Homo sapiens: one gene and its partner. The protein of the gene in region 2 purifies or fractionates together with the protein of the main gene of each other region. This does not show direct contact. Each region holds a gene or a part of one and is shown on either strand. Other genes may lie near its edges.

What was found. The genes of interacting proteins can lie anywhere in the genome.
Region 1: the proteins of CCNI2 (region 2) and LARP1B purify together in Homo sapiens (affinity purification with mass spectrometry; 4 studies listed by BioGRID and IntAct, with this or other methods). This does not show direct contact.

The regions. Positions count from the first base shown.
Region 1 is NC_000004.12:128,120,280-128,127,311, reverse strand, and holds part of LARP1B (la-related protein 1B), read right to left. Parts: intron 5,487-7,032; coding exon 5,124-5,486; coding exon of another isoform or gene 5,079-5,123; exon of another isoform or gene 4,959-5,078; intron 4,831-4,958; coding exon of another isoform or gene 4,798-4,830; exon of another isoform or gene 3,443-4,797; intron 2,686-3,442; coding exon of another isoform or gene 2,617-2,685; exon of another isoform or gene 1,824-2,616; intron 1-1,823.
Region 2 is NC_000005.10:132,742,563-132,750,425, forward strand, and holds the start of CCNI2 (cyclin-I2), read left to right. Parts: upstream 1-4,863; 5' UTR 4,864-4,933; coding exon 4,934-5,362; intron 5,363-5,781; coding exon of another isoform or gene 5,782-5,784; coding exon 5,785-5,913; intron 5,914-6,785; coding exon 6,786-6,860; intron 6,861-7,863.

The sequences.
Region 1 (7,032 bases), on a different chromosome or scaffold from region 2:
ATACAGTTAATATTCACTTAGGTTTATTCATGTATTTATTACTTGTTTTGCTCTGCAGTCCTTTCTGTGTCTCTGATAGGTAAAATCACTTTTATTCTACCCTTTGGGACTTTCTTTCATGAGACTCTGCTGGTGGCCATTTCTCATATTCTACACTCTTACTGAAAGATATTTTTGCAAGGCCTACAATTATCAGTTGATAGTTATTTTCCCTTGGCAAATTAAAGCTATCATTCCAATGTCTATTGGTTGTCACTGTTGGGAAACTAGCTATCAGCTGTCTAATGATTCTTCTTTCTTGAAAGTAATCTCTTTTTTTTCTGGCTAAACTCTGACACCTCTCCTCAGTTCTGTAGAGGTCCTAATTGCCTCTTATAATAATGACTTGGCCCCATTCTCTCTACCCTTTCATTCTGGAACTCTGACTAAATGTATATTTTAGACCTTCTCCGTTATCCTATATTCCAAGTTTCTTGCTTACCTTTTTTTAAAAAAAAAACAAAAACAAATAAAAAGCTTTATAATAAAATCTACTAGATGTTAAATTACAAAACTTGATTAAAACTTACCAACCAATAGCAAAGACTGTAGAAAATCATTCTGTATCCTCTTTTCATATATTCTATTTCTTTGCTACTCTGTGGAAATTTCTGAATAAATTCTTGGGAACAGTCTTCCAATTGACTAATTCTCTAATTCTGTCTAATCTGTTGCTAATCCCTTCAATTGATTTGGTTCTTAATTTTAATCATAATTGTTTTTACTTCCAGTTCTATCGTTATTCTTTAGGATTTCTTCTTCTCTACACATATTTTTATTTCCTTAAACACAGTAAGCCTAGCTACTGCATATTTTGTTTAATAATCTGACTATCTAAATTATTTTAAGGGGCCAGGCATGGTGGCTCACGCCTGTAATCCCAGCACTTTCGGAAGCCGAGGTAAGCAGATCACTTGAGGTCAGGAGTTCGAGACCAGCCTGGCCAACGTGGTGAAACCCCATCTCTACAAAAAACATAAAAAATTAGCCAGGTGTGATGGCACACGCCTGTAATCCCAGCTACTTTGGAGGCTGAGGCAGGAGAATCACTTGAACCTGGGAGGCGGAGGTTGCAGTGAGCTGAGATGGTGCCACTGCACTCCAGCCTGGGTGACGGAGAGAGACTCCATCTCAAAAAAAAAAAAAAAAAAAAAAAAAAGATTATTTTAAGGTATGTTTCTGCTGCCTGTTACTTTTGCTCATTCTCACATGCGAGATCTCACTTTCTTGTTAGATTATTCACTTTATGTGCTGCTAACTTTCCTTGCAATATAATGTGAATAAAGGAGGTCTAAGATAAAGGTGAATATTTTCATACACAAAAAATCTTTATTTTCATATGCTAGGTGTCTGGGAAACTAAGAGACCACAATCACATCAAATTTACAACTAGTGCTTCCTTTAGTCACCCAGAGTATGAACTTGGGTTGCATGAATACAACTTCTAGCCCAATTTTTTCCTCTCTATTCTGCTCAGCACAACCAGAAAAACATTCTGTTTTGTTTTTGTTTTTGTTTTTTGTTTTTTGAGTTAGAGTCTTGTTCTGTCACAAGGCTGGAATGCATTGACGTGATCTCCACTCACTGCAACCTCCACCTCCCGGGTTCAAGTGATTCTCCTGCCTTCAGCCTCCCGAGTAGCTGGGACTACAGGCACGCGCCACCATGTCCAGCTAATTTTTGTATTTTTAGTAGAGATGGGGTTTCATCATGTTGGCCAGATGGTCTCAATCTCTTGACCTCGTGATCCACCCACATCGGCCTCCCGAAGTGCTGGGATTACAGGCGTGAGCCACTGCGCCAGCCAGAAAAATATTCTTTACAGAGTCCCTTGGGGAGCAGGTAGGAAGCAAGTTTAGTTCTTCCACTGTAAGTGTATTCTTTTGGGGTATCTTTTTTCTCCCATAGATTTTTGGGGAACAGGTGGTATTTGGTTACACGAGTAAGTTATTTAGTAGTGATCTGTGAGATCTTGGTGCACTTTTGGGTACCAATTAAATGGGAAAAGGAATCCTATGGGAATCCACAGTTTTGAATGGTCCCTGAGTTTATGGTTTTTACCCGTTTTGGGTAGCTTCTACAAAGGGTCCTAAGGGTAAAACTAAGTTTCAGTACTTCACTTCTGTATAGTTTTATCCTGATAATAACTTACCTAGCATATCTTCAAAGATTTTAAGCAGATATTTTCTTACCTATAAGCCTATCATTTTAGTAGTCTTCAGCAGTAAATATATGCCAAAAACAGAATAAAGCCTTTACTCACTCTTTGGTCCAGTTCAACATAGCTTCTGGATCCACCAAAACTCTTTTTGCAGAGGTCAAAAATGAGTACTAAACTGCCCTATCAATTTGGCATACTTTTCATTCCTATCTAATTCAACCTGTAAAGTTGCTGACACACCTGATTATTTTCTTCTCTTAGAGCCAGCTTTTGACTTCCACAACAACACACTTTCCTATACAACTCCTATATAATCATTCCTCAAGGCTCAGATGAGACAGGTCTTCTCACTTCTATATTTCCTCTGCCACCTGTTTGTCTTGGCCGACCAATTCATCTTCTATATGGACAGCCTGTTAACTGGATTTCTTCTGCCCACTCTTGTCCCTGTACAATCCATTCTGTGCCAAAACAACCAGAGTGATCTATTAAAAATAAAAATTAGATGTCACACTGCCTTTGCAAAACCTAAGGTACTGGATTTGAACTTTAGATAAACTCCACATTATTTAACATGGCGCATAAATGATGACTCCTGCCTATTCATCTATAATTAACATTTTATATAATACCGTAGGCAAACTGACCTTTTTTCCAGTTCCTCAAATACACCAAAATCTTTTCTGCCAGATCCTTGACATTTACTGTTCCCTTTTCCTGGAATACTGTTTCCCTACTCTTTGCTTGGTTATGTCCTACTTCCACTTCAGATTTCACTATTACTGACTTTCTCAGAGGCCTTCCCTGACTACTCAATGAAATAGCATCCTGTTTTTTTCTTTTAGAGTATTTATTGTAATTTGTGATTAAGTACTTATTGTGGGTTTATTTTTAAGTCTGTTCCCCCAGTTAGCTGTAGGTTCTAGGCATGTAGAAACCCTATTTGTTACCTTCTCACTCTGTGCCCAGTTTCTAAGCAGTGTCTGGCACATAGTAAGCACTCAATGAGTATATGTTAAATGACTGATTTCTCTCCCTTTAAGCAGACCCACAGGAAAAGTACAAGTCTAATGAGATACTACATGTAGAAGACAGAATCAGAACCAAAGGGGATGAGTTAAATGATGGGAATGTACATAAGAATCAGGTCAAAGTAAGACATATCTGCAATTATAATGGTTAAAGTTATATAAGCCAAGATTACTTTCCGTTAATATTTAATGAATAAGATCAGCACATGCCTCAAGAACTCAATACATGGCTTTTAATTATTGTCTATAATTTAAGGAAATAATCACCTACAAATAGGATGTTTCTCAAGTTGGCTTACAAATTTGTTACTTGGCAGACTGAAAACATTTCCCACAGAACAAATATTATACACAATGGTTGGGTTCCTTTGGTTAATGCATAATGTTTACTCCATAATTTATTTACCCACAAACATGAATTGAACATTTCTTTGTGCCAGAAACTATTCTAACACTAGAAATACAATAGTAATGAACAAATAGAAAAAAATCCTATTGTCATTGGTATTACATCCATAGTTTTTTCTCCAAGAGAATAAAAGTAAGTAAAATATATAGAATTATAGATAATGATATATGCTATGGTGAAAAACAAAGCTGGGTAAAGGGATAGAGAATGGGGGAAGGATAATTTTAACTGATTATTAGTAGAATGTACTAGTATCTCTGTTCTAAAAGGATTTAAGATAGGTATTACTTACCGAACCTAAGTATTACAAATAAAATAGCAATGCTTACACTAGGAAAGACTTTCAACTGAGAAGCATTATAAAAACACACTTCCTTTCCCACAGCAGTAGGACAGGCAGAGAACTGCTAAGGCTCTAAGTCACGTAACAAGCTATCATAGCCTGAGGCAGGTCCTCCAAGAAGGCAGTGGTTACAGAAGGCTAAAAGCAGTACTGGGGATTCCAGGAAGAAAAGAAATGAGGAGCCAAGAAGGCTAGCACACTTCTTGTTGATGATATGAAGCCCCACCGACAGGCAGTCCCCTCTACTCAGCCACTAATTGGCTAGCTTTTCTTCCTACAACTTTATTTCCAACCAAGATCAGTTTCCTATTTGGCATATAATGTTATATAATTTTCCCTTATTATACCCTCTACTGAAAACAAATATTTAACTATTGGGGCTTTTCTGATAAACTTAATAGCAGAAAAAGATTCCTTTTATCCCCATATCTGTACCATTATAATTCATATTGAAGGAATGCAGATACCTGATAAACTATTCTGGTTCTCTATTTTACCTTAATAACTAGGATAGGAACCAGGATCTGGGATGAAATGCAAGAAGTTAAAAAAAATTAGAACAAGATTGTAAAAAGTAACCCTAGCACCACAGTAATGACTAGACCAAGAGAGATAATCATCCAGTTTAGTCATTTATAGTTTGTCCACAACCATTTCCACTACCTTAGATCATGCACCATAGACTAAGTGGGGAAAACAGAAAGAGGCAAGAAGAGTGCTCTCTAAAGCCACTGGCTCATACAGCTGCGGTGAGAGCCAGGTAAGCAATGAGCATATAAATTAAGCCTGTCCACAGTAACTTGTTTTTATTCTTTCATACGAGAAAGGGCGTTCTCAGTATTGTCACCTAAAACAAAAACAAAAAAAAACAAAACAAAAAAAAAAAAAAACAAGGGTATAAGTCAGTGAGTACTAATTTTCTTTTGTAATTACAGTATTCATCACGCTGTTACTTTCATAAAATAAAACGATTCCTCAGGTGGTAATTATCAGGTATATTTCCAGGAATTTTTCAAGTTAAATACAATGTATTTATATTCAACATTTCATAAAATAGAGCCTCAAGTTTGAGAAAATATAAACAGCAACATACAATCAAAACAAAGCATCAGTAGAAAGATGTTGGCCAGAAACAATTACCTTTATGGCTGTGTGTTTGTTTTCATCTTCTTCCATCCATAGATCCTGTTCATAATAGTATAAGCCATCATTGATAACTTTAGCAAGTTCAGATGTGATTTTTGCCCGAGACATGTGGGTGCCTGTTCGATCTCCTCCAGGATGTTTTTTCACATAAGGTGGTGTCTGAGTTACAATCAAAATCTTGTTTAAGTCTTGGTCATCAATTTCATAATCTGAATCATTATCAGACCAATCAGTAAATGTGTTTTTTCGTCCTATTTGTTCAATCTCTTCATCAAACAAAAAATCAAGTTCTTCTTGTTCTGGTTCTTCTGAAGAACATAGCTGATTTAATGACCCTTCAGGGACAGACACTGATTCCTGAAGGAAGAAATTGGTAATTTATATAAAAAACTTTCTATCATTTTTAAATTAAATGTCATAAAACAGTGTTACAAGTAAGTAATATCAAGCTTTTATGCTCAATTGCTAGTTTAACAGCCAAACTGTAAAAGAAAATCAAGTGAGTATTATTTTGGCCCAGTAAATTTAAGACTAAAGAAAAACACAAAGTTGAATAAAGAAAGGATTACATTAAAGACTCTTTTAGAGTTGGAATAGTCTTAATCATCCATTACATTGCACTGATTCATTTTACTGATTAAAACAAAGGCCTAGAGATATGAAAGTATTTGCCTATGATTTCATAATTATAAACAGAACCAATTATCTGGTTGTGGATTGCTGTATTCCCAGCTACTCGGGAGGCTGAGGCAGGAGAATCGTTTGAACCTGGGAGGCAGGGAGGTTGCAGTGAGCCAAGATCGCGCCATTGCGCTAGAGCCTGGGCGACAAGAGCGAAACTCTGTCTCAAAAAATAAATAGATAGATAGATAGATAGACAGATAGATAGAATCAAGGTCTTCTGATTTTCAGAGTCAATGGTCTTCCCTATTCCGAACCTTTTTACCTCACAATGATAATAACATAGTTTCTGAGCTAATCCCTCTACTCTATCCTCATCCCCATTCTACATGGCCCAGTTTTCATGTCAAATTCATGCTAATATTCAGCAAATGTTAAAATGTCTACCCCTCAGGCCAGGTGCAGTGGCTCACACCTATAATCCCAGCACTTTGGGACGCTGAGGCGGGTGGATCACAAGGTCAGGAGTTCAAGACCAGCCTGGCCAACATGGTGAAACCCCGTCTCTACTAAAAATACAAAAATTAGCCAGGCGTGGTGGCACGCACCTGTAGTCCCAGCTACTCGGGAGGCTGAGGCAGGAGAATTGCTTGAACCTGGGAGCCAGAGGTTGCAGTGAGCCGAGATCACGCCACTGGACTCCAGCCTGGGAGACAGAGCGAGACTCTGTCTGAAGAAAAAAAAAAAAAAAAAAAAAATTGTCTACCCCTTCTATAGAACTTAAAACAGCTAGGCCAGGTGCAGTGGCTCACATCTGTAATCCCAACACTTTGGGAGGCCAAGATGGGCAGATCACCTGAGGCCAGGAGTTCAAGACCTGCCTGGCCAACATGGTGAGACCCCATCTCTACTAAAAATGCAAAAATTACCCAGGTATAGTGGCACACACCTGTAGTCCTAGCTACTCGGGAGGCTGAGACAGGAGAATCGCTTGAACCCTGGAGGCGGAGGCTTGAACCCTGGAGGCGGAGGCTGCAGTGAGCTGAGATTGTGCCACTGTACTCCAGCCTGGGTGACAGAGCGAGACCCCATCTCAAAAAAAAAAAAAAGAACTTAAAACAGTTGTTGGTTTACATTAAAAGTCTAAGCTTTTAGATCCTAGATCTTATAACATGTAAACTAGTTTAAAACTCCCAACAGAAGGAAGTAGTTTCTACTTGGTGTTACATTCATTTTTCGTCCTCTGGCCTATTTTACCCTTCAGTTCATGCTAACTTCCTAT
Region 2 (7,863 bases):
CCCTGTCTCTACTAAAAATACAAAAATTAGCCGGGCATGGTGGCATGTGCCTGTAGTCCCAACTACTCGAGAGGCTGAGGCAGGAGAATCTCTTGAACCCAAGAGGTGGAGCTTTCAGTGAGCCGAGATGGCATCACTGCACTCCAGCCTGGACGACAGAACAAGACTCCGTCTCAAAAACAAAAAACAAACAAAAAAAAAATATGAATTTGGGAGGGACACAAACATTCCGTCCATAACACAGCCCTAGCAGACTTAATACAATTATTTAGCCCATTCACATTTAATGTTATTATTGATAATATTAGATTTAAGTCTCCCATTTTGCTTTTTGTTTTCCCTTCCTTCCTCCCTCCCTCTTTCCCTTCCACCCTTCCTTCCTTCCTTCCTTCCCTCCCTCCATCCCTCCTTTCTTCCTTCCTTCCTTCCCTCCCTCCCTCCCTCCATCCCTCCTTTCTTCCTTCCTTCCCTCCCTCCCTCCATCCCTCCTTTCTTCCTTCCTTTTTTGAGATGGGGCCTCACTCTGTTACCCAGGCTGGAGTGCAATGATACAAACAAGGCTCACTGCAGCCTCAACTTCCTGGGCTCAAGCCTCAAGCCATCCTCCTGCCTCAGCCTCCTAAGTAGCTCGGACCACAGGTGTGTGCCACCACACCCTGCTTTTTCTTTTTTTTGGTAGAGACGCGGTCTCTCTATGCTGCCCAGGCTGGTCTCAAACAGCTGGGCTCAAGCAGTCCTCCCTCCTCAGCCTCCCAAAGTGGTGGGATTGCAGGAGTGAGCCACCATGCCCAGCCTGCTTTTTGTTTTTTAATACGTCATATTGTCTTTCTGTTCCTCTGTTCCTCCTTCAATGGTTTTTCATTATGTGAATCTTTTATAGTTTAACATTTGAATTTCTTTAATTATTGGTTTACTATTTTTTAAAGTTATTTTCTTGGCAGGCCCAGTGGCTCATGCCTGTAATCCCAGCACTCTGGGAGACAGAGGCAGGTGAATCGCTTGACGTCAGGAGTTCGAGACCAGCCTTGCCAACATGGAAAAACCCCATTTCTACAAATAACAGAAAAATTAGCCAGACACAGTGGCGTACACCTGTAATCCCAGCTACTCAGGAGGCTGCGGCAGGAGAGTCGCTTGAACCCAGGAGGCGGAGGTTGCAGTGAGCCAAGATCGCACCATTGCACTCCAGCCTGGGCAACAGAGCAAGACTTCGTCTCAAAAAAAAAAAAAAAAAAAAAAAAGGCCGGGCACAGTGGATCATGCCTGTAATCCCAACACTTTGGGAGGCCAAAGTGGGCGGATCACAAGGTCAGGAGTCTGAGACGAGCTTGGCCAATATGGTGAAACCCCGTCTCTACTAAAAATACAAAATTAGCTGGGCATGGTGGTGGGCTCCTGTAGTCCCAGCTACTTGGGAGGCTGAGGCAGGAGAATCGCTTGAACCCGGGAGGCAGAGGTTGCAGTGAGCTGAGATCACGTCACTGCACTCCAGCCTGGGTGACAGAGTGAAACTGCGTCTCAAAAAAAAAAAAAAAAAAAAAAAAAAGCTCTAGGGCTTCCAATATAGATCTTATCAGAATCTATAATACTTCAGAGTTATAATAATTGAATTCCAGTGACATATATAAATGTAACTCCCGTATAGCTCTATTCCCTCCTCCTCTTTTTGTGCTATTATTGTTATATGGATTACATTTACATGTTATAAACCAAACAATACTTTGTTATAACTTTATGTTATAAAATTTTATGTATTTTAAATCTTCCAAAGTAGCCGAGAGAAGAAAACAGAGCCAAGTTTATATTTATAATTTGTAATATTAATCTTCTTATTATTTCTCGTTCTCTTCCTTGTTTCCTGTGGATTCAAGCTACCATCTGGTGTTATTAGCATTTTATATGATTCCATTTTCTCTCCTTTCTTAGTGCATATGAATTATACTTTTTAAAAACTTTTTTTGCTGGTTGCCCTAGAGTTGGCAATATACATTTATAACTAATTCAAGTCCACTTTCAAGTAACATTATACTGCTTTCCAGGTAATGCAGGTAACTTAAAACAAAGTATTCTTAATTCTTCCCTCTCATGGCTAGTATCATTATTGTCATTCATTCAACTTATCCATAACCTACAATCATCAAATACATTATTATTATTTTGAATAAATGATTATTAGATCAATTAGGAATAAGAAAAACAAAAGTTTTATTTTACTTTCACTTATTCCTTAAAGTTCTTTCTTTATGTCGAAATTTATGACCTATATCATTTTCCTTCTCTCTGAAAAATTTCTTTTAACATTTCTTGCAAAGCAGGTCTACTGGTGAGAAATACCTTCAATTTTGTTTGTAAAAGTATTTCTCTTTCACTTCTGAAGGATAATTTCACTGAATACAGAATTCTAGGATGGTGGGGGTTTTCTCTCAAAATTTTAAATATTTCACCCCACTCTCTTCTTGCTTGCATGATTTCCGAAGACAAGTCCAATGTGATTCTTATCCTTATCCCACCTTATCTTATTTCCACCTCATCCTACCCAGCTCCTGCTCCCAGCTTTGCTTGCTCTTTCTTTCTTTCTTTCTTTCTTTTTTCTTTTCTTTTCTTTTTTTTGAGATGGAGTCTCCCTCTGTCACCCAGGCTGGAGTGCAGTGGCATGATCTCAGTTTACTGCAACCTCCACCTCTTGGATTCAAGCGATTCTTGTGCCTCAGCCTCCTGAGTAGCGGGGACTACAGACATGTGCCACCACACCTGGCTAATTTTGTATTTTTAGTAGAGACAGGGTTTCACCATATTGGCCAGGCTGGTCTTGAACTCCTGACCTCAAGTGATCCGCCCACCTCAGCCTCCCAAAGTGCTGAGATTACAGGCCAGCTTCTTTTGAGATTTTTTTTTTTTAATCTTGATTTCCTGCAGGCTTTTTTCAACTTTTATTTTAGATTCTGGTATATTGTGCAATGCTGATATTTGGGGTATGAATGATCCTGTCACCCAGGTACTGAGCACAGTACCCCATAGTTATCCAACCCTTGTCCCCTCCTTCCCTCCCCGCTCTGGTAGCCTCCAGTGTCTACTGTTGCCATCTTTACGTCCATGTGTACTCAATGCTCGCTTAAAAGTGAGAGCATGTAGTATATAATTTTCTGTTCCTGTGTTCATTTGCTTGGAATAATAGCTTCCAACTTCATCCATGTTTGCTACAAAGGACATGATTTCATTCTTTTTAATGACTACATAGTATTCCATATTGTATATGTACCACATTTTCTTTATCCAGTCGATCACTGAAGGGCACCTAGGTTGACTCCATGTCTTTGCTACTGTGACTAGTACTGTGATGAACATGCAAATGTATGTGTCTTTATGGTAGAACAATTTATTTTCCTTTTGCGTATATACCCAGTAAAGGGACTGCTGGGTTGAATAGTACTGTTTTAAGTTGTTTGAGAAATCTCTAAACTGCTTTCAACAGTGACTGAACTAATTTACATTACCACCAGCAGTGTATAAGCATTCCCTTTTCCCTGCAGCCTCACCAGCGTCTGTTGGTTTTTGACTTTTTAATAGTAGCCATTCTGATTGGTGTGAGATGCATTACTCTGATGATTAGTGATGTGGAGCATTTTTTCATGTTTGTTGACCACTTGTATATCTCCCTTTGAGAAGTCTATTCATGTCTTTTTGCCTGTTTTTTGATGGGGTTGTTTTTTGCTTGTTTAATTAAATTCCTTACAGATTCTGGATATTAAGACCTTTGTCGAATGCTTACTTTGCTAATACTTTTCTCCCACTCTATAGGTTGTCTGCTGACTCTGTTGATAGTTTCTTTTGATTTTCTACGGTTTAAATAGGAATGTCTAGGTGTAGTTCTTGGCATTTATCTTGCTTAATGTTCTCAGAGCTTCCTAGAATTGTGGTTTGGTGTTTGGCATTAATTTGGAAATATTCATTCTCAGTCGTTATTGTTTCAAATATTTCTTCTGTTCCTCTCTTTCTTGTCCTTCTGGTATTCCCATATATTTTTAATATACATTTAATGTAATGAATTTTTTAAACAAAATATAACTTAGGAGCCAGGTGTGGTGGTGTGCACCTGTAAGTCTCAGCTACTTGAGAAGCTGAGGTTGAGGGTAGCTTGAGTCCAGGAGTTTGAGGTTGTAGTGTGCTGCGATCACACCTGAGAATAGCCACTGCACTCCAGCTTGGGCAACATAGCAAGATCCACCCCTAAAATTTATGTATGTATGTGTATACATATATATGATTTGTATGATTTTCCTTATTATACGTTTATAGCTATATATGTATGTATAGATACATAAACATATATGTATATGAATGAATCACCTTGTGAGGGAGGTATTATCACTTTTTTTTTCGGAGAAGAGGTAGCCAAGGCTCTGAGAGGTCACGACACATGCATGAGATCACACAGCGCGTCTGGAATTCCATTTCAAGCCTGTCTGAGGAGGGCGCTCTCGCTGCTTCTTTACCTGGTCTTGTGTCCCCAAGTGTGTAATGTGAGGTAAGACCCAGGGTCTGTGTCCGGGAGTCCTGGCCCAAGGCGGGCGCAGTCTCCAGCCGCCCCACCCCTGGCTGGGGGCTCTGCTCAGGGAGCACGGCCGGCAGGGGGGAGGAGGCGTGCGCTAGGCAGCAGCGGGGATGGAGGGAAGGGAGGGGGTCCGCCACCCGCCTGTGCGCGCCCAGTCCTGCCGCATCCTGGGTGCGCGCCGCCCACCCGCGGGGCGAGTGCCCAGGAGGCGAGGCGCGGCCCGGTGCGCCAGAGGTAGCTCCACCGCGAGCGTTGTGGGTGGGGCCCGCCGAGCCCGCCTCCCCACCTCCCCCGGCGGCGCCCCAGGCTGCAGTGTTCCGGGAGCTGGGTTATAAAATGCCGGGTTAAGCGGCAACTCAGACTCAGGATCCCGCTCACGACATGGCCTCGGGCGCTCAGCTCCCGCCGCAGCCGTCGAGCTCAGAGGTCAGCGCCGTCCAGAGCCCAGGCGGGCGTCCCGGCGCCGGTCTGGAGGAAACAGCCCTGGGCGTTCCTCTCCCGCCGTCTCCGGGGGAGGCCCCTCTGCCCCGAAGCAACCGGAGCAGGTGCCCTGGGACCCGCCAGCCCGGAGCGGCCTCCCTCCACGCGGCGTCCGCAGCAGTCCCCGTGCGGCCCCGGCGCGGTACGGCGCCAGCCGGGAAAACCGCAGACGCGGTCCCCGCCGCCGCCCCAGAGCAAGCTCCGCGGCCGGCTCCACAGTCCCGCAAGCCGCGCAACCTGGAAGGCGACCTGGACGAGCGCCGGCTGCTCTGCCACTTGCAGCTGGCCCAGGACCGCGAGGCGCGCCTGTGGCGGGGCGGCAAACCCCAGGTACCCGTCGCTGCCGCGTGGCCCTCCTCGCGCGTGCACGGCAGGCGGATGTGGCCTCCACCTGCACCCGCGCTCGGGTGTTCTGAAACTGGAGGCCGGGCCCTTCCCCAGGTGTGGCCCCTCACGAGAGGCACGAGGCTGGATCCACCAGCTTCTCTCTAGGAGGGCGTCTTGCTAGCAGGGCCTTCGGAAGAGGGCCTGTTTGAATCAAGGAACTCAGCCTACGACGAAAAGTGGGCGCGAGGGGTGGGGGTGATGGGTGAGCCGCTGCGCCGGGGGGCGCTTACTCCCAGCGGGCATGCAGAGGAAGGGACTTCTCACTGCCCCACCCCCCGCACCTTAAGCAGGAGGCTCCTGCTGCTGGGGGACCAGGAGTGGCCGCTAGCGACCTTCCTCGCCCCACCTGCTCTTCTTCCTAGCAGGATGAAATCTGCGACGCCTTCGAGGAAGTCGTGCTGTGGCTCCTGCGGCTTCAGAACACCTTTTACTTCTCCCAGTCCACTTTTAACCTGGCCCTCACCATCTTTGGCCGCCTCCTGATTTCAGTGAAGGTAGGGAGGCCTCTGAGGGACGGTGGCAGATGGTGAGAGAAGAAACTAACCTTTGCTCCCCATTCCTGCTTGAGAGGTGAGGGTTTCCAGATGCTCAAAACCAAGGTGTATAAACTAACTTGCTCCGAGTGGAAGAGCTGGTGTTGGAACCTCTCCACATCCTACACTGGCTGTCTCAGGGTCATGTAGTCATCAGGATTGGACTTGGGGAGCGTGAGAGGACCTAGCTGGGAAAGGGCTTCCTGTGTAATGAGGTAGGATGTGCTTGTCTCGACCTGTCGAGGGCAGCTTGAGGCTAGGATGAGACTGGGTTCCCTGAGAAGGTGCCATATTTCCCACCTCCAGTCAGTCCCGAAATGAAGGAATACTGCCCAGTCATCTGCAGTTCTGAAATCAGGAGCATCTTCGTTGGTCAGATCTAAAAACGGCACTAACATTCTGTCTTGTGGAGAAATTGAGCCTTTTAAAAATGGGAAAAAAAAGCTTATTAAAACAAACGGCTGGGCGCAATGGCTCACGCCTGTAATCCCAGCAATTTGGGAGGCCAAGGGGTGTGGATCACTTGAGGTCAGGAGTTGGAGACCATCCTGGCCAGCATGGTGAAACCCTGTCTCTACTAAAAATACAAAAATTAGCCAGGTGTGGTGGCCCGCCCCTATAGTCCTAGCTACTCAGGAGGCTGTGACAGGAGAATCGCTCAAAATCAGGAGGTGGAGGTTGCAGTGAGCCAAGATCATGCCACTGCACTCCAGCCTGGGCAACAGAGTGAGACTCCATGTCAAAAAAGTGTATAAAAGAAAACAAACACAGATGCTTTTCAGTTTGTTTCTGGCATTCATATTCTGCTCAAATGTGTTTGTTCCATACTGCAGGTAAAAGAGAAATACCTGCATTGCGCCACAATTACTTCCTTGAGGCTCGCTGCAAAAGTTAATGAAGAAGAGGAGGTATGCATCCTTGGAAGTCCACACTGGGCTGCACTTGAGGTATAGGGGTGTAACATTGGAGGACTCCAGTTTCCTGATAGGTCTGTGCCCTTAGGTATGGTGGATGTTTTGAAAAAGTCACCAACTTGCCGGCATCTCTGCTATCCCTTCCATCGGCTTGTCAGGCTTTGAGACCCCACAAATGAACAAGTAGAGCAGCTGAACTGTCCTGGCCCACCAAACCTAGAGACCTGAACTCTTGACAGATACATCTGGCCTCACTGGTTGATGACAGATGCTACCTCTCTCTAAACAGGGGCATCTGCTGTTGAGCAAGGAAAAAGGCCTCCCAAACCATGTGACTTAACATCCACCCCAAGCAATTATGTCTAAGAAAGCTGCTTGAGACTTGAGGACTTGGCTGTGTCAATGAAGCTGGTCCTTGGGAACTCTGGGACCCCTGAGAGGGACAGGAGGGCCATGTGCTGGGGGTAAAGTACAAGGGGCCCATGAGCATTTCAGGCATGGCTGGATGGCTGAATTTCACTGTGGCATCTGTTCAGGAGGAGATCATCTCCTAATACCCTTTCCAAGCTTTCCTACCTCCCTCCAACTTCTCCCAGTTTGGGGATGGTGAAATCACTGCCATTGCCACGGGGGTCACCCTTAGCTGATCTCTGGGTCTGAGGAGGCAGGGAAGAAGTTGTGTGTCCAGTTCCAAACCTTCAATAAAAATGTTTTAAACTCCTGTTTATTAGAATAGAATTAATGCCCAAGTTGCTTTTGTCCAACTAAAAATCAAGTGACCCTTTTTCTGGAGGTTATAGTAATACTTCTGTTTATCTAAAAACATAGGATCAAGCCTTTAATGTACTTGGTACTCAAATGTTTACTCATAGACAAGCCTCATTAGTCCCTCTGTGGGAAAAGCCATAGTTTTTCCAGAACTGAACCACCTTCAATCAAGGTTGAAGGAAATGTGTTTGCAGTTGCGATGCTAAAAAACCCATAGGAGGTTTTATCA